Regions from separate parts of the Homo sapiens genome. Here region 2 is linked to region 1. Evidence: fine-mapped expression QTL. A gene starts in region 1. The other region holds a variant in brackets. All regions are shown on one strand. Distances are from middle to middle. Region 1 holds the start of ACSL1 (acyl-CoA synthetase long chain family member 1). Region 2 holds the start of MIR3945HG (MIR3945 host gene).

Region 1 (11,610 bases):
CTAATATAGTTGCAGTCCCAAAATGGATTGAACAAAAAGAACTCAGTTACTGATGCCAATCTTCCTTTAACCAGCCAATTACCGAGGTCTGTAATTAAAAGCTCATCGGCCATTATTAATTGATGTGGCTATACTTCAGATAGCCATGCTCAAAAGCAATAGGTGCAGAAGATTAATAATAATCACAGCTTTGTAGTTCCTAATCACAAGTGGGAACTTTTGAGACAAGGCCACTGTAAACCTGCTAATCAGCTTGACCCAGAAAGACTTCGATTCTTTTTTTCTTTTCTTTCTTTCTTTTTTTTTTTTGATGTGGTCTTGCTCTGTTGCCCATGCCAAAGTGCAATGGTGCAATCACGGTTCACTGCAGTCTCGACCTCCTGGGTTCAAGAGATCCTCCCACCTCAGCCTCCCATGTAGCTGGGACTATAGGCTACAGGTGCACACCACCATGCTGGGCTAAGTTTTGTATTTTTTGTAGAGACAGGATCTCGCCATGTTGCTCACACTGGTCTCAAACTCCTGGGCTGAAGTGATCCGCCGACCTTGGCCTCCCAACATGCTGGGATTACAGGCATGTGCCACTGCACCCGGCCCAGTTCTCTTTAGCTTCTCCAGGAGATTGATCAATCGGTGTTAGGCAGATGTCAATGTGGATTTAGCCAGAATTAGCCACAACATTTTAATCAGGCCAAAATGTAACAAGGGCAGGAGTGACCGAAAAAAGACTCAAATTTCCGCTAGGAAATTTGCACCACTACAATATCCAATTGGCTCTTATTCCCTTGGCTAGAGAGATGCTTGAAAAAAAAGACAGTAGAAAGGAGGGTTAAGACTGGTTTCTTAAAGAAGTAAGTACAAGGAAGTATAAGTTCATGCTGCCTGCTTCTAAAAGAATTCTATTCCTCATAACTACATAACATTATAATGCTACTGATTCATAAGGAGTTTAGATTAATTCTATTGGAGAGGACACCAGGATTATTAGTGTTTATTTTCATCTAGGATCTTTATTCTTTAATGCTGTTGGTCCCACAGACACATTTCAGTATACAAAAACACTGCAGTGTTAATAGCCAAAAGAAAAGCCATTATGATGTGAATAGTGGTCATTGTGATCACTGTGACACAATTTTTAAAAACTTTTTCTTAGAGACGGAGGGTCTCACTATGTTGCTCAGGCTGGTCTTGAATTCCCGGACTCAAGCAATCCTCCTGCATTTGCCTCCCAAAGTGCTGGGATTACAGGTGTGAGCCACCGCACCTGGCCCAATTTTTAAAAACAATCATGTCCTTCATTTAAAAAAAAAAAAAAAAAAAAGGCCGGGCGCGGTGGCTCACGCCTGTAATCCCAGCACTTTGGGAGGCCAAGGCGGGTGGATCACGAAGTCAGGAGATCGAGACCATCCTGGCTAACACAATGAAACCCCATCTCTACTAAAAATACAAAAAACTAGCCGGGTGTGGTGGTGGGTGCCTGTGGTCCCAGCTACTTGGGAGGCTGAGGCAGGAAAATGGCATGAACCCAGGAGGTAGAGATTGCAGTGAGCCGAGATCGCACCACTGCACCCCAGCCTGGGCAACAGAGTGAGACTCCGTCTCAAAAAAAGAGACTGGTTTCTTACCTAAGTCACAAACTCCCAACTATAGAGTCTGGAATCTTCATTTAATGAGAACGCCAAGGGCGTGGCTGTCAATCCTATGACACCTGTCTGAGGTAGGTATTATTCCTGATTTAAGGAGGATGCAATGAGGCTTGATGTGGATTCACCCACCCCAAAGCCTGTGTTCTTAACCACTATGCAATACTGCCTCCCATCAAAGTCTCTATCTCAAGTCCACAAGACAACCCCATACATTGTAAAACTTTTTGGAGTGATTAGATAAAAACTTTTTTGTTTTTTTTTAAGTGTGTGTGCTGAAAGAGACCTAAGAGATTATTTAGCCAAGCCCCCTTATAGCCTGAGGAGAAATCTAGGTTCTAAGGAATGAAGTTGCTTCCCAATGTCACCTAGAAGTTCCTGCCAGAAGGAGTGTGAACTCAGGTCTGATACTGGGTTGTGTGCCTTTCCCAGCCTTGAGTTGGAAATCACCTCATTAAGGGCTAGAGCCCAGGGAGAGGCACCCAGTTTAAAAGAAAAGTGTCTTGAGGAGAAGACGTAAGGTGAGACAGCCAGTGACGACCATCCACATGTTACGGGTTGAATTGTCACCCCCACATTCCCCAAGTTCATATGTTCAGGGGTTTGTTGTTGTTGTTGTTGTTGTTTTGAGACAGAGTCTTGCTCTGTCTCCCAGGCTGGAATGCAGTGGCGTGATCTTGGCTCATTGCAACCTCCACCTCCCTGGGTTCAAACAATTCTTCTGCCTCAGCCTCCCGAGTAGCTGGGACTACAGGTACGCACCACCATGCCCCGCTAATTTTTTTATTTTTAGTAGAGACAGGGTTTCACCATGTTGGCCAGGCTGGTCTTGAACTCCTGACCTCAGTTGATCTGCCTGCCTCGGCCTCCCAAAGTGCTGGGATTACAGGCATGAACCACCGTGCCTGGGCATTCAGGTATCTTAGAATGGGACCTTACTTGGACATTACCTCATGATTACAGAGGTCATCAAGTTAAAATGAGGCAATTCGGGTGGGCCCTAGTCCAGTATGACTGGTGTCCTTATAGAAAGAAGGGATTTGCACACACACACCACAGGGAAGATGGTGTGAGGAGACATAGGGAGAAGATGGGCATCTGCAAGTCAGAGTGGCCGGGCACACATGCTCTTTCATGGGCCTCGGAAGCAGCCAGCCCTCCCACGCCGTGATTTTGTACTTCTAGTCTCCAGAACCAGGACAGACCATACATTTCGGTTGTTGAAGCCACTTAGTGTGTGGTACTTCGTTCCAGCAGCCCTTGAAAACAATAGACCACAGAACTTGGGAGGTGCCTGCAGAGGTTCTGGGGCTGAGGGACCGGTTGGAGAAGAGGAAAAAGGAGAGGCAAAGATGACAAAATCACGGATGGGGAGGCGAGATCTGGACAGAAAAACCAGGGATTAGCCAAGCGGGAACCAGTGAAAACGAACGTGGAGTCCATTTTTTCTAGATCTGGAAGATGGAGATCTAAAAGGACTGAGCTGCTAGAGAGGTTGCTGGTGTGTGCGTTGTCCTCACCCCACTGCACCACTGCGCCCAGCACACTGTGGGAGACACCCAGGGAAAGTCCTTCAGTTATTTGTGGGAGTGAACTGCAGTGTGGCTGAGGCCTGGAGCGAACCACGGTCAGTTTCCCCTGCCTGCAGCCCAGGCATAGCCCTGCGTTGGTTGTGCCCACACTCTGGGGGCAGCCTGAGTGCCAAGTGTGGTACTGCTCTCACTAGCATTTAACCTCTGTGCCCCAGCTTCCTCTTCTGTGAAAGGACAGTAATGACAGTACCTACCTCACTGGGTTATGAAGATTAAATAGAATAATGTGTACGCAGTGTTTGTAGCAATGCCTGGCATCAAGCACTGGGTAAACAGTATCTATTATTATCAAAGGCCTTTACGACAACAATCATTCTTCAAACGGCCCTCCAGCGAACGCTGGGCGCAAACTCCACGGTAACGGGGACCAATGTTGTTAGAGGTTGAGGTTCCTGGTAGGTCCCAGGTGCTAAAAGGAAGAGCAGCCTTTGGGATGTGAGCCCGAAAACCATCGTGTTGGCTTCTGAAGCCCCAAGATGGGCATGGCAGGGACGCGGAAGCCCTCAGAACCGCGGAAGCCCTCAGAACCGCACAGCAGGTGGCCGCCGTGGTGCAGCGCGCAGTCGGCCCTCAGCTCCCCTGCACCGGCGCGAGCTGCGGGCGCTGCCCACGTCAGGCTCTGCAGACACCAGACAGAAAAGGTCTTCCGGCCAGGGAGCGTGGGGGAAACCCTGTGGGGCCGCGCCCGTCAGTGTCAAGGAAAAACGGAGAGGAAGGCCCTTGCCTCCAGGGCCCTCGCAGCAGAATTCTGCCCGGCCTGCCAGGAGGCCAGCGGGGCACGGGCTGAGGGTGCAGGATCCGGAGGGCGCCGCCCGCCCCTCGGGCATCGCGGGGCCCAGGGTCCGCGGGGCCTCTGAGCTGAGGCGGTCCAATGTACCCTTTGTCCTTCCTCAGATTCATTATGAAATCCGAGGCAGTCTGGGCGACTCCAGCGGCGTTCGCCCGCCGCAGCCTCTCGACCGCCGGCCACCCGCCAGCCACGCGCGCCCAGACAGGAGGGCGGCCGGGCGCTCGGCGGGGCGGGGCCTGCCGGGGGCGGGGCCTGCGGGCGGGGCGGGGCCGCGGGAGGGCGGGGCCGGCGCGGCGAGCGCACCAGCAGCATCCTGGCTCAGCCGCGGCGGTGGCGGGGGCGCAACCAGCGGGCCGAGGCGGCGGCGCCAGCGGCGCCTTAAATAGCATCCAGAGCCGGCGCGGGGCAGGGAGTGGGCTGCAGTGACAGCCGGCGGCGGAGCGGCCGGTCCACGGAGGAGGTGAGTGCGCCCGCCGTGCGGAGCCGCGCCTGCTCCCGCGGCGGTGCCCGGGCCCCGGCCGAGGCGCCGGCTGACGTTGCCCTTCAGGGCCGAGCCCGGAGCAGCGGCCGCCGCGGAGGCGCGTGAGCCACCCCAGGCTCGTGGGGCCGCGCCGCCTTTCCGGCCTCCTGCCCGCGGCCCCGCTTCCCTCGGCAGCCGGAGGCCTCCGGGGTGCCCGTGCTGCCGCAGCTTCCTGTGTCTGAGTCGCGGGCGGCGCGGGCGCGGGGCTGGTGCGCGGCCGGGGATGCGCGCGGGACCGACCCTTGTGTGTGCGGCGGCGGGGACCGGCCCGGCGAAGCAGCCGGAGGCCGCGCTTCGGCTGGGAGGAGGTGGCCCAGCTGGGCCGCTGACGTTGCCCTCGTCCGCGGCCCCCGCCTGCCCAGAGGCCGGGCTCGCGGGCGTTCGGACCGCGCGTGGGGCGAGACTGCACTCGCGCCCGCTGAGATGCCGGCCCCACGCAGCGCGGCGGCACGAGGCCCACAGGCAGCTCAGAGGCCGCTGCCAGAGGCAGACATTCTCTCGGTGACTCCAGAGGAGTGCCCGTGGCCCTTGCACTTGGCCGTGGAGTCATTGATCTAAGGAGTGCTGGCATTTTTTGAAATTGAGAAGCAAAGATGATGTCTGTCACCTGGCAGCGTAGACGGAGAGTGGCGGTAGATGACTTGAATGGACACGTGGATTCGAGTCTGGGGACAGGCGTTCCCCCAGTCGGTGCGTTGTGAGAGTGTGGAAACCCCTTCCCCACTCAGTCCAATTTCAAGGTTATGGAGCATAATTAAGAGTGACCATTCTAAAAGCGTTCTCTAGTGCCCTGGCTAAGACTTTTAAGCTTCTTGGTGCAGGAGTGTCTAAAGTCCCGCGACTCTCACTGCCCTGTCTTTTATTTTCTTGACCTTTGATTAGCGTTGAGAGAAACTGGTTAAATCTTGCAGTTTCTGCCACCCATTTCACAACTTAACCTGTGATTGTCCCAAAGAAAACAATTATTGGCTTCTTGCTAGCAAAAAAATCAAAGGCTTCCGGTTGATTGTTTCTTTCTTTTTTTTCTTTTTTCAAGTGGACGTGGAAGGTTAGGCTGGCTAAAACTTAAAGTTTGAGTTGTAGGTCTGTGCTGGGTAGGCTTGAGAAGATGGAGCTTTTTAAGGAACCATTGCTCGCCATCAGATTGGAGCCAGACAGTGCAGTGTGATATAGTGGAAAAGGACCAGGTCTTGGGAGACTTACTTTCTTGTTCTGACTCAACTCGGAAAACACCTCCCTAGTCTGAGGCCCCCCTCCTTATATTTGTGAACAAACTGCATTAGACTAAAATCTTTCACGAGTCCAAATTCTGCGACTAGAAAAATAAACTTGTTAGCCGCACACCTTATACCTCTCCCCTTTAAAACAGACATATTAAAGACTTCTGTTTTCTGAATTTACTGTAAACAGAATACTTAAAAAAAAATTACCCAGACAGGCGTGGTGGCTCACTGTAATCCCAGCACTTTGGGAGACCGAGGCGGGCAGATCATTTGAGGTCAGGAGTTCGAGACCAGCCTGACCAACATGGAGAAACCCTATCTCTACTAAAAATACAAATAATTAGCCAGGCGTGGTGGCATGCATCTCTAGTCCCAGCTACTCGAGAGGCTGAGCCAGGAGAATCGCTTGAACTCAGGAGGCAGAAGTTGTGATGAGCTGAGATCCCGCCACTGCACTCCAGACTGGGCAACAGAGCAGGACTCTGTAAAAAACAAAACAAAACAAAAAATTACCCTTCCCCACAATTATAAGCATTTTGGCATATTTCCTTCCTGTCTCTGTTGTTCCTATTTTGGCAGTATTTTTATTGTTATCGCAGGCAGCCTGACTGAAAAGAAATCTGGGCTTCTAAGTTTTTGGTATTTAGGAGGTAGATACAAGTGACCCATGCATGTAGGGTTAGGTATCTATTTATACCATGCAGGTAGAGTTTTCATAGCCACCTCTACTTTTGGGTGAAGTTTAGGCTAACTGAAAGTGTACCAGCATGCATGGTGTATGCAGAAAAATGAACGTAATTCAGATTATGTGATAGTTTTCTCTTGTTGCCATTATATATAACCCAGGGCTTACCACAAACTGAAATTTCTTATGCATTGACATTTAGCATTTGATGTAAAATGACTATCTCAGAGTTGCTGCCACAAACACTGGTAAAACTGTCCCTACTTTCTAGCATGCTTAATGTCTAGGTCTTGCTACATCTTTTTTGATGTAACTGTTTTGTGGAAAATGGTTGTGTGTTTGGGGAGGCTTTTGAGAAAAGATAAGGTTGTCTTGTCATTATAACTGGGTATTTCTCCTCTCTCCCTTCCAGTTTCACTTGTCTGGAAATAGCAAGACTATAGGAGTAGTAATTTCTAGATATTTATAGTCAGTAACCTTAGAGGAATGTTTAGTTTTTAAGATCAATTGAATTTATTGTGTAAGTTTGCCATTTAAAACAGGTGCCCATTTGTGTTTACTGTCTCTTGTAACCAAACTCTGTTCAATTAGAATCCATTAGTAATGTTTTGTGGAGAGTCTTGTTTGGATGATGCAGTGCATGAGGCTCCTGTACTACAAAATAGAAAAGAAGTTCCTCTAAGGCAGCTCAAAGCTGTTGATATCCTGAAGCCTTTTTAGGCCTCCCTCTCTGACAGGCGGTGATCTGACAGGAGGTAGATAAAGGTGCCGGAGTTTTTAGTGAAGGTTGGCAGTCCAACTTGGTAGTCAGACAAACACATGATGGTCAAAAGTGCCTTTGACACTGGGGCCTGGAGAAGAATTCTCAGTGGCCAGAGCTGATCTGAAGCTGCAGGCAGTTGAGTTTGAGTTTCAACATGTTGGTACTTCAAGGGGCTTCTGAAAAGTTTTAAAGGAGCACAAGCCCTGAAGGAGTAGCTGAACTTAGTGAACTGGAGAAGGCAGGGGCAGTTTTACCAGGGTTTGTGGCAGCGACTCTAAGATTGTCATTTTACATCAAATGCTGAATGTCAATGCATAAGAAATTTCAGTTTGTGGCAAGCCTTGGGTTGTATATAATGGCAAGAAGAGAAAACTATCACATAATCTGAGTTATGTTCATTTTCTACATCATGACATTTTCACTTTCTTTTTTTTTTCTTTTTTCCCAGATAAGGTCTCACTCTGTCGCCCAGGTTGGAGTACAGGCATGATCATGGCTCGTTGCAGCCTCTCCACCTCCCTGGGCTCAGTTGATCCTCCCACTTCAGCCTCTCCAGTAGCTTAGACTACAGGCGCACATCACTATGCCCAGCTAATTTTTGTATTTTTTTCGTAGTGAAGCGGTTTTGCCATATTGCCCAGTTGTCTCGAACTCCTGGGCTCAAGCGATTTGCCCTCCTTGGCCTCCCCAAAGTGCTAGGATTACAGGCGTGAGCCACTGCACCCAGCCCACTTTCATGTTCTTGACTGTGTTAGAAACAACACAGTATTGATTCACTTATGACCTTTGAGGAATCAAGAGGGGCGGGTGAAATATTGGAGACTCCTTGAAGTGTGGCTGGCTTGGAGGGTGTCACCCTTGGACAAAAACTTAAGTGGAGGTGAGTAAGGGCCCTGCTCCCCTGTGCTGCCTGCCTTAGAAGGATGTGATCATCTGGAGGCAAATAGCTTGTTGCTTGAGGCCAGGAGTTCAAGACCAGCCTGGGCAACAGAGCAAGACCCCATCTCTAGAAAAAAAAAAGTAAAAACAATAAAATAAAATCTCAAAACTGGTGGTTCCATATAGGTGCCTGGGCTGATTCTCTTTATGAATTATTTGCTGGTCTTCAAGTTTAAATAAAATTCTGAAAGCTGTCTAATATCTAAAAACCACTTGCCACAGAAAAGCTGTATTTGTTTTTCATATTTTAAGAGTCATACATACTTACTGGAGAAAATTTGGGAAATAGGAAAAATGAAGCTCTTCCAGAGATTAAATACTATTAACATTTTGTTATATTTCCTTCCAGTCTTTTTTCCCTATACAATAAACAAATTTTAAGCATACATTGTTAATTAAAGATTACAATTTTGACAATTTAACTTTATCACCTAAGTTATATTGTGGGCTTTTTTACACGTTGTTACATATTCTTCAAAAAATAAGTTCTGAAGATGACTGCATTATTTGCTGTATGGGCCATAATTTAGTTACTTCTCCCCATTTGTTGGATATTTTTCAGAACAGTTTACCAACCTTTGTTATATGTTTAAATACGTCTTTAAAAAATAAAAAATGTTCTGCTTTAAAACTCTTGAAATTAACAATAATTTGAAAAGTGTTTTTACTAATGAATAGGTTTAATGGACTTTTGGGTTCATGTATTCTAGTCAAAAGCAGTTGAAATAGGGATTTCATGGTTTGGAAAGAGAAATGGAAAGAAGTTAGGGCATCAGAGGAGGAAACGGGGCCTGCCTGTAGACCATTTCCTCATTCTGGAGGGGACTTCTGATAAATGTAGGCTCTATCCATTAGCACAGCTTTGGCTGCTATAGAAATGGGCACTTTCCCCTTAGGTTTGTTGTGGGAGAAATGTCCATATAAGAAGGACTGAAACACTCTGAATACTATTTATTCCTTTATTAAGCAGAGTCATGAGAAAGTGCTTCCGGAGCTAGTTTCTCCTTCAGGGTCCAGGTGTCTGCCACAAAGCAGGGCTGTGGTAGCTGACCGAGGTGGTAGCCACAGCCTGGACACGGCCAGGCTTAGGAACAGAGCAGTGATGAGAGCAGCAGACAGAGCCAGGTGCTGCTAAGCTTCTGATGGGTTAACTCATTAGTACCTTCAGCAACCCTGTAAGGTAGGTCCTGCTGCTATCCTTACTGTACACAAGATAAAGGAACAGGTGCAAAGATTAAGTTCCCCATACCAGAATTTGAACCTAGGCAGTCTGGCTTCAGGGTCTGTGCTCCTAATTGCTGGGCTCTACTGCCCCTCCAGAGCTAGAAGTTCTCACTCCAGGAGGGCCTAGAAAGTTCCAGGTTAGGCCAGGTGCGGTGGCTCACGCCTGTAATCCCAGCATTTTGGGAGGCCGAGGCGGGTGGATCACCCTGACCAATATGGTGAAACCCCGTCTCTACTAAAAATACAAAAATTAACTGGGCGTGGTGGTACGTGCCTGTAGTCTCAGCTGCTCGGGAGGTTGAGGCAGGAGAATCGCATGAACCCAGGAGGCGGAGGCTGCAGTGAGCCAAGATTGCGCCACAGCACTCCAGCCTGGGTGACAGAGTGAGACTCTGTCTCCAAAAGAAAAAAAAAGAAAGTTCCAGGTTATACAGCTGGCAGTAAGACAGGAAGGACAGAGCTGGGTCTCCTTCGGTGTCACTGCTCCTTGATTTTACCCCCATCTCATTTACACTCTGCCTTGAATTATCTCTTTATACCACTAGAGTGCTGAAAGAGACCACAAATTTTGATTCAGCGTGGCTCAGGGAGTGATAAGATCACTTGCTATGTAGCTGTGACTTTCTAGAGAATTAAAAAATAAAAGGCTTTGCCTGCCCTGGACATTGGTCTTGTAAGGCTGGAGAACAATTGAGACGCATGACTGGCCGGGTGCAGTGGCTCACGCCTGTAATCCCAGCACTTTGGGAGGCCGAGGTGGGCGGATCATGAGGTCAGGAGATCAAGACCATCCTGGCTAACACGGTGCAACCCTGTCTCTACTAAAAATACAAAAAATTAGCCAGGCATGGTGGTGGGCACCTGTAGTCCCAGCTACTTGGGAGTCTGCAGGGATCGGAGGGGGGTGACTTGGCCAAGGTAACACAACCTGCCTGACCCTCTGGCCATGCACACGTGTGGAGTTTGTTCCCGGGCCCTGTGCCTGTTCAAAGAATGGCTGGACGTCGGTATTGCCCTTGGTTTCTGCCCTGAAGTCCAGTCAGTCAGCAGTTCTGCTTATTCTGACCCTCTCTGTGCAGTATTACCCAACACACATGCATTTCCTCCTTGCCTTCTCAGTATTGCCATCGTGAACCAGAATTGTCACCTCCAATTTAAACAGTGAAGGCCTTTGTTAGGAAGAGGGGCAGGGTGCAGAGGGGGATGGTTGCTTTTTCTAAATCACAGCTCTGATCAAATCCCTCCTAAGCAGAAGCCTTCCAGGCTCCCCTCCATAAGGCTCCAGGTGTTTACTTACCTTGCCTGTCAGGGGCTTCTGCAGCTTGCTTCCTACCTGCTATCTCCACTCCTCTCCAAACCACCATATCCTGAGGCTTCTAGAAAGCAAACTCTGGCGGCATGGGGTTAATGGGTCTGTGTACCCAAGACACTGTACCTGGGTGCTGTCATCTGCCTGACTGACCTTCCTGTGTCCTGGTCCGATGGTGTCTTTGATCCTATAGCTAAGATCAAGACACTGAAAATCTCTAGACTCAAGTCTGTGCTTTTGCTGGGATAAAGTTTGTGTTGAGTACATCTAGGCTGGGTGTGGTAGCTCACGCCTGTAATCTCAGCACTTTGGGAGGCCAAGGCAGGTGGATCATCTGAGGTCAGGAGTTCGAGACCAGCCTGGACAACATGGTGAAACCCTGTCTCTGCTAAAAATACAAAAATTAGCCAGGTGTGGTGGCAGGCGCCTGTAATCCCAGCTACTCAGGAGGCTGAGGCAGGAGAATCCCTTGAGCCTGGGAGGCAGAGGTTGCAGTGAGCCAAGATCGTGCCATTGCACTCCAGCCTGGGGTATAGAGTGAGGCTCTGTCTCCAAAAAAAAAAAAAAAAAAAGTACATCTAAATGGTACGATGCCCATGTTGGCCTATTTGGAATGCCATTCCTTGTCCCACAGAGCCCTGCTCCTCAGAGGCACTTTTCCTGGAGTGACTCTCCCCTTCCTCACCTACACTCACTGTCATTCAGCTGTAGATGCACCAGCGATCATGCTAGTGGTTAAAATATCGAAATACTCCCATCCTGGCTAGAGAATAGCTGCTACCCAAGTGCCCCCGCCCTTCATATGGAAACTAAAGGGTTAATACATGGGGCAGTAGAGGAACTTTGGAGCCCTGTTTTGGTGCACTGGCCTGTGTCTTTTCTGGCTGGTTGGTGTCTGGCCGTACTGGCTATTAAATATTTT
Region 2 (11,610 bases), 32 kb before region 1:
AACAGAACACCACTTTCCATCAATCAAATTAGCAAAGACATCATAAATGATAACACTCCATGCTGGCGAGAGTGTAATAAACTGATTTTTTTATGCACACCTGGAAGAGTGCACACAGGTACAACCTATCTGGAAAGCCATTTGACAAGCCAATTGGAAAGAAAACATGGAGATGTTTAGAATTTCATATCCTCCATCACGGTGTTTCACCTTCTAGGAATCTATCCTTTGAAAATAATATTGATCACACACTTGGCTAAAGTTTTATGTCTGAGGGTGCTGCAGCCTTATTTGCCGTGGCAAAAGTATGAAATCACCTAAATGTTCACACACACACACACACACACACACCAAAATGATTAGATTACCATGTCCACCTATAGTGAGACTGGCAGTCAATCAGAGGAAATGTTTCCTGAAGGCAATTTAATAAAATGAAGAAATGCTAGTAATTATAAAGTGAAAGAAGGAGATGCAAACTGGATACACTGGAAACAGCCCAAACGCTTACCAGCAGCAGATGGATGAGAAACAACACGTAGCATTGACATACATGCAATGGCATATTCTTTAGCCTTTATTTTTTATTTTATTTTTTTGAGATAGAGTGTCGCTCTTGTCGCCCAGGTTGGAGTGCAGTGGTGCAATCTTGGCTCACTGCAACCTCTGCTTCCTGGGTTCAAGAGATTCTCCCTGACTCAGCCTCCCAAGTAGCTGGGACTACAGGCATGCGCCACCATGCCTGGCTAATTTTTGTATTATTAGCATAGATGGGGTTTCGCCACGTTGGCCAGACTGGTCTCGATCTCCTGACCTCAGATGATCCACCCACCTCAGATGATCCACGCACAAACATGCGTAGAATGTTTGTGGTCCTTTTAATTTTCCCATAAACTTTAGAGTCACCTGGTCAACTCCCAAAGTGCTGGGATTACAGGCATGAGCCACCACGTCCAGCCATTTTTTAGCCTTTAAAAGGAATTAAATGGCACTATATGTGACAACATGAGTAAACCTTGGGAACATTATCTAACTGAAATAGGCCAGACACAAAACGACAAATCCTCTATGATTCCACTTATAGGAGTTACCTAGAATAGGCGAATTATTAGAGACAGCAAGTAGAATAGAGGTTATCAGGGGCTGAGGGGAAGGACCAATGGAGAATTATTCTCTGGTGGGTACAGAGTTTCGGTTTCTTTTTCCAGAAAAAGTTCTGGAACTGGATGTGGTAATGGTTGAACCACATTGTGAAGAAACACTGCCACTGAATTTACACTTGAAAGTGGCTAAAATGGTAACTTTTATGTTAGTATATTTTACCACAATAGAAAATGCGTAGAAAAAAACCGTGTGAGTGATTTTTTTAAAAACACATGCTTTGAGATATAGGACAATGTGTAATGAGATATTAAGATGTAATCTCAGAGTATTCATTGATTCATTGATTCATTGAAAAAAGATAATTCTATTGAGCCCCTACTTGTGCCAGTTACTCTTCTGGTTCTGGGGACAGAGCTTGGTCAACAAGACAAACAGCCCCTTGCTCTAGTGGAGGGTGTAACGCACACTGGGGTTATAAGAAGATTCTTTCTTTTTTGCCCCTTTATATATTTTCCAAATCTTTCCAATGGGCATTGTATTTTTATGTATGGGGAAAATATAAATGGAAGAAGGGAGGCAATTATGAAATCAATGTTGGCCTGAGATGATTGTTAATTTTCCTCTTCCTCCTGGGCTTATGCCGTGAGCACACACCTCATCAATACAGAGAGGACCAGGTCCGATGATGATGAGGGAGGGATGCAGGAGGATCGGAACTTACGGAGCAAGAGAGTGGCGCCTGCTCAGTCCGCCATCCTGCTGTCTCCCGACTATGCTTTGGGCTTTCTGGCTTCCAGAGGCATCCGGACTCTAGTGATCTGTCAGTCCCCCTCACTCCACCCAGTGGGTGTTTACATCGGTGTTCAAAAGATCCAGAGCTTCTCTTTTTTTGGTGCTAGGATTTTTATTCTTTTAACAATAGTCCTGCAATAGCTCTTGGATAATTGTCTTGACCCCTCCTCTGCTTATACCAGGCCATAACCCTCCTAGAGATTCGAAAAGCTGTCTGAAAATATCAGGCAGAGGTTAATAAATGAAAGGGCTGGGCACCTTTCCTCCAAGAAATCGTTGCTAATTTGGGGCTCCTCTTGCAACATAGCAAAACCGAGAATTTCAGGGCTTTGCAATGCAAAAAGTCCCCAGTGGCCTCATTTCTACATTTCCTCTCCATACCCAACTAATTGACCCTGAGTTTTTGTTCATTCTTGTCTGATCTTGGCTGATATTAGGAGAGGCAGTCTAACCCAGATGAATGAAACTCTGCTTCCTTGATCATGGCTGCAAAGGGACACCGCCCCACGCCCCACCTCCTCTGTGCGGAGATAGGAGGAATCCCTCAGACCCCACAGCTCTCTCTCATCTCTGGCAGCCTGCGCCCCAGGAGTATGAGATGAAAGAGATCCACACGATGGTCCCTGGCATCTTTGGCTACTGTTATTCTTCTATATCCCTTGGCCTAGGGATCTATTTTAGGCAGTAACTTCCACTCCCTCTCTGTCAGAAACCTCTCTCATCATTGAGCTAGATTTTGGAAGTGTAGGAACATCTGGTTTTTGGACTGTGAGTCCCCTCAAGGCTGATAGGATGTTTAATTTTAGCTAATGAATGGATGTTTAATTTATGAGTATATGATGAATAAATAAAACCAGCTCTGATGGTTTCATTTTAATCTCATTCCAAGACAAATCTTACTTTCTATATTTTCCCCCACAAAAACGGATTTTTCTTCTCCATTTCAATTCTTTTCATCTCCCTCTCCCCAAAATCTCCAATTATCAGCTCTTCCATGGAAAATTTCTTCTCTACTCTCTGTTCTGACTTGTTCATGATCTAGTAGTTTTCTCTAAGGAAGGCTATGTAGTTTGGAGGTTATAAAGCTCAGGCTTCCTGAGTTCAAGTCCCAATTCCACCATTTGATGGTTGTAACCTCTGTGCGTCTCAGTGTCCCCATTTGTAAACTGGTGCTAGTCATAGACACCAGGTTGTGGGGTTACCGAAGGAGGGGTAATGAAGGTAAAAAAAGAGCATCTATCATAGAACCTGGCAACTGATGAAAGATTCAATAATGTTGACTGTTAGTAACATTTCAGTAACATTTTACTTAAATAGATAGAGGTTATGATATTATCTAGGTAGGTAGCCCTTTCTTAATGGCCTCAGTCTAACCCAACACTTTATCATATGGGGAGAAAATGTATAATGGAACTGTGAGGAAAAATCTGGAAGAATGGGTTGCTGGTGCCAGAGAGGAGGTGACTGGAAAGTGTAACAGCCTCTCTTGCCCTGCCCTGAAGCCACTTCCACGTGCCTCAGAGCCTTTGAGCCTCCAGCAACTCTGCCATCTGCTCCAGGTGTGAACTTTGCACACAGTGAGCTCACTGAGGTCTGGCCTACTGATCAGCTGTCTTATTCCCCCCTTTCAAAAAAAGGAGCTGCACCGTCATGAGTACAAACAACTTGCCTGGGTCTACAACCCCAAGGTGACAATGTGGAGTTGTGATCCCAGGTCTTCAGAGGACCAGCTGGGACCTTTGGGACCCCAAGGTGACGATGTGGAGTTGTGATCCCAGGTCTTCAGAGGACCAGCTGGGACCTTTGGGACCCCGAGGTGACGATGTGGAGTTGTGATCCCAGGTCTTCAGAGGACCAGCTGGGACCTTTGGGACCCCGAGGTGACGATGTGGAGTTGTGATCCCGGGTCTTCAGAGGACCAGCTGGGACCTTTGGGACCCCGAGGTGACGATGTGGAGTTGTGATCCCGGGTCTTCAGAGGACCAGCTGGGACCTTTGGGACCCCGAGGTGACGATGTGGAGTTGTGATCCCGGGTCTTCAGAGGACCAGCTGGGACCTTTGGGACCCCGAGGTGACGATGTGGAGTTGTGATCCCGGGTCTTCAGAGGATCAGCTGGGACCTTTGGGACCCCGAGGTGACGATGTGGAGTTGTGATCCCGGGTCTTCAGAGGACCAGCTGGGACCTTTGGGACCCCGAGGTGACGATGTGGAGTTGTGATCCCGGGTCTTCAGAGGACCAGCTGGGACCTTTGGGACCCCGAGGTGACGATGTGGAGTTGTGATCCCGGGTCTTCAGAGGACCAGCTGGGACCTTTGGGACCCCGAGGTGACGATGTGGAGTTGTGATCCCGGGTCTTCAGAGGACCAGCTGGGACCTTTGGGAGATGCAGAGCTGCTGCGGCGCTCTTCACATGCACTTGATCTGCTGTGTCCACTAAATCTACCCCACTTCTAACACCCCAGTCCTGGACTCCGTGGGTGCAAAACGTGAGTCTCTGCACCCCTCTTCACATCCCTGGGGGGCTTGAGAATAAGCCAGCAGCCCTGAGCTGGGCTCCTTGGCCTGGCCATGACTGCCAATGAGGGGCCTTGAGTCTGTGTCCTCAGCCCCCAGCCTGTCCCCATTTTGGGGACTTGAACAGACCCACAGTGTCAGTTCCTCCCATAAAAAGATTTCAGGGGACAGCAGCACTTCCTCTTGGCCCCCAGGCACTTGAAGGCCGCCTGCACCCCCCATTCCTAGGCCTTGCCAGCCTGAGGGCAAGCTCCTTACATGACCTGCAGCTTCAGAAACTAGGCCCTCCTCCTTACTTCCCATCACCCATTTTGTCAAAGAACCTAGAATATTTTGTTATCCGAGAAGCCTGGCTTTCGACAAACCGTAGGATTGCTAGTATCTCTTTATGGAGTGGACTTGAACTGTTTATTGCAACTGTGACATGTGGCAAATCATTTTACTGTTCTGAGGCTTTACTTCCTTCTAGTTAGAATGAGCATTAGGCCGGGCATGGTGGCTCACGCTTGTAATCCCAGCACTTTGGGAGGCCAAGGCAGGTGAATCACGAGGTCAGGAGTTCAAGACCAGACTGGCCAAGATGGTGAAACCCCGTCTCTACTAAAAATTCAAAAATTAGCTGGATGTGGTGGCGGGCACCTGTAATCCCAGCTACTCGGGAGGCTGAGGCAGAGAATTGCTTGAACCCGGGAGGCAGAGGTTGCAGTGAGACAAGATCGTGCCACTGCACTCCAGCCTGGGTGACAGAGCAAGACTCCATCTCAAAAAAAAAAGAAAAAAAAAAGAGCATTAAATATATGACATCTTTAAAACTGTGTGGATTTAGAACTGAGGTATCTTCTTTGTTACCTGAGGAGGGAAACATGCTTATGGGGCTAATGTCATTTTAATTTTGGGGTAGGTCTGTCTGTCTTCTGTGGGGTGGGGGAGAGTGAAAATTTTCTCTGCTGTAGGTGAAGACCTCTAGGCTTTATTTTCAACTCATATGCCTCATGCTATTGTTCGAGAATCATCTTTTCTATTCATATAAGCTATATCATACTGATCTTTTTTTTAACCTTATTTATTATTTTTTATTTTTGAGATGGAGTCTCCCCCTGTCACCCAGGCTGGAGTATAGTGGTGCAATCTCAGTTCACTGCAACCTCTGCCTCCAGGGTTCAAGTGATTCCCCTGCCTCAGCCTCCAGAGTAGCTGGGATTACAGGCGCGCACCACCACACCTGGATAATTTTTGTATTTTTAGTAGAGACGGGGTTTCACCATGTTGTCCAGGCTGGTCTCGAACTCGTGACCTCGGGTGATCCGCCCGACTCAGCCTCCCAAAGTGCTGGGATTACAGACATGAGCCACTGCACTCAGCCCCCCTTTTTTTTTTTAACTTTAAAATCCACTTGTGACACTTTTGTAAAATACCATCAACCTTGTGTATTAAGCTACTGTTGTGACAGCCATGATAATTTCCCTCTGAAAATGGTTTGGAGACATGAAATAATAAAAATAACCTTTAAAATGCATTATCACTCTGATTCTATTAGGAAAAACGGAAGTCACTGGATTTAAACTATGTCAATGCCCTGTACTTTCTGTCTGTCAGTAGGTGCTGTAACTGTTGGCTAAATGATTATTTTTCATGCTTCCTTTCTCATTTCTGCTTTTTTAGATATTTAAAATGTCCTTGTTTCTTGGTGAGCAGAATTATTTCCTACCTCATGACCATGAGTCATGACCTTATACTCTTCTTTCAGTACAGGAGAAAGCTTCATTAATTTACTAATGCATTCATTCCACAAGTAAACTTCTGCAATCCTCGTTTATTCATATACTTTGACAAAAACAAAGAGACCCACAAGCTTTTTGAGTCTTCACAACCCAAAACATGTATTTGAAACTGAAAATTCAATCATTCCATGTTTATAGGCATATTGCTTGATAGAAACATATAAATCATTACCTGAATTTTTTTTTTTTTTTTTTTTTTT[TG/G]AGACGGAGTCTCACTCTGTCACCCAGGCTGGAGTGCAGTGGTGCAGTCTCAGCTCACTACAACCTCTGCCTCCCGGGTTCAAGCTATTCTCCTGCCTCAGTCTCCTGAGTAGCTGGGATTACAGGCGCCCACCACCACACCCGGCTAATTTTTTTTTTTTAATTTTTAATCGAGACGGAGTTTTACCATGTTGGCCACGCTGGTCTCGAACTCCTGACCTCTGGTGATCCACCCGCCTTGGCCTCCCAAAGTGCTGGGATTACAGGCATGAGCCACCGCGCCCAGCCTGGATTTTTTTTAATCCAACCCAGTTCCATATTTTCCTCTAGAGAGACTGACTCACCAAGCCTATCTCCTTTTCCTGGAAACACAATCAAATTAACTTTCCAGTCACCGCTGTGTCTAGGTGTGGCCATATGAGTAGTTCTCACCAGTGGAATGTAGTGAAAACGAGATGCTGTCTCTTAGGGACTAAGGAAGCTATCTTTCCTCTTCCGACATTTGCTGACTGGTCGATGCTAGATGATCTTGAGACCCTGTGCTGAGGACTGGAGAACTACAGGAAAGGAGCAGTATCTCTGAATTATCGTGTGGAAGGTCACTTGTCTAGCCCCTGATGACTGTGAGGTAAGTCGTTAGGGATCTGGGGTTGTCTGATACAGCAGTTAGCAGGTCCTGACTGACATATCCCTCTTATTCTTTAAGTTGAACAAATTAGAGACTGGAGTGTTTTGGGTAGCCTTGCTATATGGCATGGTCGAAGACGGTGCTTCGCAGGTGATTTACAACCCTCCTACCATTTACTCTGTCTTCATTTCAAGCAGTATAACCTATAATTTCCTAATCTTCAGCAGAATAGGAAAAGGGGCTCAAAGCCACAAACACACACGCTTCCTTTCAATGTACCTTTGTTGCTCAGCCACAGTGGCGAGTTCACGCGCCTGGCAAGACCTCTCCCTATTTGGGCATTTTGTGAATACAGAAGAATGGGCGCCCTGGTGTGACCCAACATCAGAATCCAAAACATGGCATCTTTACCTAGCCCTTTTCGCTTCTTTTAGATCATTCAATAAACATAATCTGTTTTCTTTCAAAATAACATGGTTATCTAATTCCCTTCATTAGCAGCTAGCAAAAGAGGCCCTGGGCTTCCCGTGAGCTAATTCACTGGGTCCCTGAGGTCGTTGCGGGCTTTCCCTCTCACTCTTGCAACAGACACAATCTCACTTCTTTAATGTAAAGTATGGTTTTTCTGTCGAAATGTGCTTCCTGTTTTCTTTATCGTAACTTACAGGCATGATTGCCTGGGTCTTCTCTCATTATTCCCAGTCCACTGCCTCTTCATATTTAGTGGTACTTCTGTCTTACTGGTCCCTGGAAATTTATCTCAGATCATTTCCTTTTGGGTCTATCTCTTCTTTAAGAGAAATAATTTTAAAGTCAAAGCTCCATAATACAGAGATCTGTTCTCTTTCCCACCATCTGTTTTCTGAACCTCCCCTCCTGGTTCAAGCCTCTGTAGGATAATTTGAACACAAACCATTGACTGCCAACTGAAATCGAACAAGATAATGTCCAATTTGCCCTTTTTTCTCTCTGATTTGTCCCAATGTTTACATTTCTCCATCAATCAATGAACAAATCACTTTGGTACAGTGTGCCAGTAGCTTTGAGAGGAGCACAGAAGCAATACAAGCAAGCTCACCAGTAACTTATGAGGCTCGCTTACCCAAAGCCATTCAAGAATAAGACAGTAGATAACACCAGCCACCTGGTGTATATAGAAAGTGCATTCAGAGGGCCGGGCACGGTGGCTCACGCCTGTAATCCCAGCACTTTGGGAGGCCGAGGCGGGCAGATCACGAGGTCAGGAGATCGAGACCATCCTGGCTAACACGGTGAAACCCCGTCTCTACTAAAAATGCAAAAAATTAGCTGGGCGTGGTGGTGGGCGCCTGTAGTCCCAGCTACTCGGGAGGCTGAGGCAGGAGAATGGCATGAACCCGGGAGGCGGAGCTTGCAGTGAGCCGAGATCGCGCCACTGCACTCCAGGCTGGGCGACAGAGCGAGACTCTGTCTCAAAAAAAAAAAAAAGAAAAAAGAAAGTGCATTCAGAATTGGGGAGGGGAGAGATCAATGTGTGTTAGAGCCAAGGAAACATTTAGTAAAGATGGAATTTAGCCCTTAAGGACTGTCAGGCCAGAGCAATAGGAAGTACAAACATTTCATATGTAGAGAATAACACGAACAAGGCACAAGAGCAGAAATATGAGTAACAGCCTCAGTGGGTCCTATTCGTTATGCACCTATCATGTCCCTTGCACTATGCCGGGCCCTTTGCACTCATTATATACGATGCTCACAGCAATCCTGAGATTGTGAGGCGGGTATTTTACAAATACAAGAAGTCAGTTTTAGAGAAGTACTAAATGGCAGACTCAGGATTCATGTCTGCACTTCATTCACTGCGTAGGAAGGTGAGGGTGGTTAAGGAGGTGCCACTCTGGGAGCAGAAGGCAGTCACTGGAGCAGATCAGTGGAGCTACGTTACGGAGATCCGGGATGGTCCGTGAGGATGCTGGGCCTCACCTGGTAAGCAACAGGGACTGCTGTAGAAGCTTTAGCACAGAAATAGGATGACAAACTTTAGTCAGACAAAATCTGAGTTCAAGGCCGTGTTCTGTGTTAGCTGTGTGACTGGGAACCACCGTTAAACCTGCTGAGATTGTTTCCTCCTCTATAAAATGTGTTCAACAGCAATATCAATGTATAACATTGAAAGGCTTAAATGAGATTTTACTAAAGCACCTGAGATATAGTTAGCATTTACTATATGATAGAGGTTGTTGCTGTTACTACTGCTACTACCACCACCACTGCTACCACAACAGCACTTAAGGAAGGATGATAATCTGGAGAAAAACAGCTAACAGATATTTCGTGAAGACATGAAATGAGATGGCATAGATAGATAGATAGATAGATAGATAGATAGATAGAGTTATATGCCATTTGGTTATATATACATAATCAAAACTTGACTCTGGGAGTATAGATGAATAAAGGTGAATTAGAATCTAGTATAAAGAGAGAAGATCGGAGAATGAGGATTGACACATCTGGGGCACCCACAGTTGGGGAGCGGGACACGGGAGAGAGTCAGTGACAGACACAAGGAAAATGCAGAGGAAGAGGTAAGATGGTCACGTAGACCACAGCAGTCAGGTAACAGAAGAGGTTCCTCAAAAGGCTAGGGAGGTCTACTGTGCCCAGGGCTGCTGTGGGGAGAAAAGATTGAGGACTAGGAAAAGGCTTGTGCAGTTGGGGCAGTGACAACATGGAACACAGACTGGGAGGAACCAGGTGGGAATAAAAGACACTGGCCACAGCCACAGGCACTGCTCATTCATCTGAGGTGTAAGTATAGAGAGAGAACTCGGCTGTGGCTTGGAAGTAACAGCAAGACAAAGAAGGAGGTTATTTTTAGTTCTTGGAGAGGCCAATACCGCTGGTAATCATGAGCGAGCTTCAGTTCATCTCTACCCCTTACTATGGTGCAACTCCTCATGGACTGGTTCCTGAGCCTGCACCCTCTTAGGGTGCAGGTTAGTCCTGCACTTAGTCTGGCTTCTGTTAACTTGTTTTCTCTTTCAGGTCTCACTGTTGCTAACCCCACTCATCAACTTGATCTGTTTGCCCCCAATCCCACCATTTTGCATGACATTATGGATCCTCTGATCTTTAACAAATCCATCCAAGATTGTCTGTTTCTTCTTCTAAGGTGTCACCAGGAATGAAGATTCTTTCACCTAATTTATTTTTTTCTGGTTTCACACGTGTCTGAAAAAATAATAGCAATTATTATTATTATCATTGTAGGATTCATTTCACTCCTCTCAAACACATTCAAAAAGTCTCTTCATCTCTTCCATCATGGTGATGCTCAACTGTTACCCAACTATCCAACTGTATCTTGGAGTTTTGTAATTCCATCATGAGTTGTACTCAACTGTTATCCAACATATCTTGGAGCATGCACCAGGATGCTCCCTGACACAGCTCACTTTGCAAGTAATTCTTAGACACACACTTTCTCCACCAGGCCTGTCTAGTTGAAGTTCTCTATATCCCTGCCCCCCTCCCCACCCTGGTTAAGCATAGGACTTCCATGGTTACATCCCATTTATTCCTTTCCCAAACATGCTTAATGCATTTCATCTCCAGTTACAAACATCGTCTGCTAATGAACAATGTAGATAGTTACCATGTTGTATAAATAGTTACTTATTTCCCTTCGTTGTTGGTTTTATCCAATAAACTAGCCCGATCAGCTTCATTTTATATCACCTTATCTCATACAGATGAGAAACTGTATGTATTTCAGCCTGTCTAAACTGGAGGTAACGCTAGACTGCAGTATCCCTGCACAGTGTCGTATTAGAAATGGCACCCTATAAATTTTTTATGAGTTAATAATGATTGTGATCCCATTCCTATTTTCTACAAGTTCTTCTGTTATGGTGGCAATTAAATAGCCTCACCTTCCTTTCACTTTCTGCAAACCTGCTGCAAGTCATCATTAACTTTCTTAATTGGTAGCGGCTCTGAATTCCAGTCTTTCAGAGTTCCCGTAAACAGCATCTTTCTTAATACTTATGTCATAATGTTTTTCTCCTTTCCTTGCATTTCATTCTGCCTTTGGGCAGGAACAGCATCATTTCCTGCTCTTCTGGGGTTTCAACACTGACTGCAAAGCACCCTTGCTCATCTCACTGGGAGATTCTGCAGCCAAGCAGAGATTTGCATAAAGCCCATCCACCCTTCACCAGCACAGGATACGCAGACTTAACTGCAGGGACTCTTGGTGACTAGTCTCTGTGGTGCACACTCTCCACCCTACCACCAAAAAGGTCCCCAGTACCCTAAAAGGAACTATGTACTCAAATATCACCTCAAATAAGATGAGGTCTTTCTGAGAGAAAAGAGATGTTGATGCACGTGACGGGGAGGGCATAGGAGAGGGTTGATATAAAATGCAATTACAGCCTCTTATGCTTTCCAAAGTGGGGGATGATTCAATGATTCCTGACTGGTCCACAGCCATATATCAATTGAGGTTATAATACTAATTTGAATTGCAAATCTCTGAAAAGAAGGGGACAAGCTAAGGAGATAAAATTTAACAGGGTGAGTCCTGAATTTAGATTTAAACAA

What was found. PIP is the estimated chance that this variant, and not a neighbour inherited with it, causes the effect.
Region 2: its variant is fine-mapped to the expression of ACSL1 in whole blood (INTERVAL, PIP above 0.99).

Annotation. Positions count from the first base shown.
Region 1 is chr4:184,818,791-184,830,400 of GRCh38, reverse strand. It overlaps ACSL1 (acyl-CoA synthetase long chain family member 1), which reads left to right and starts at 4,433. Exons shown (of 21, transcript NM_001995.5): 1 at 4,433-4,485. It overlaps LOC105377587 (a long non-coding RNA gene), which reads right to left and starts at 4,230. Exons shown (of 3, transcript XR_939564.4): 1 at 3,430-4,230. RefSeq lists enhancers at 3,255-3,534, 3,705-3,754, 3,361-3,864, 5,115-5,184 and a silencer at 3,985-4,944.
Region 2 is chr4:184,850,882-184,862,491 of GRCh38, reverse strand. It overlaps MIR3945HG (MIR3945 host gene), which reads left to right and starts at 6,840. Exons shown (of 3, transcript NR_132989.1): 1 at 6,840-7,023. It overlaps MIR3945 (microRNA 3945), which reads left to right and starts at 11,382; the gene lies at 11,382-11,479. The variant TG/G (reference allele first, on the strand shown) is at 6,395.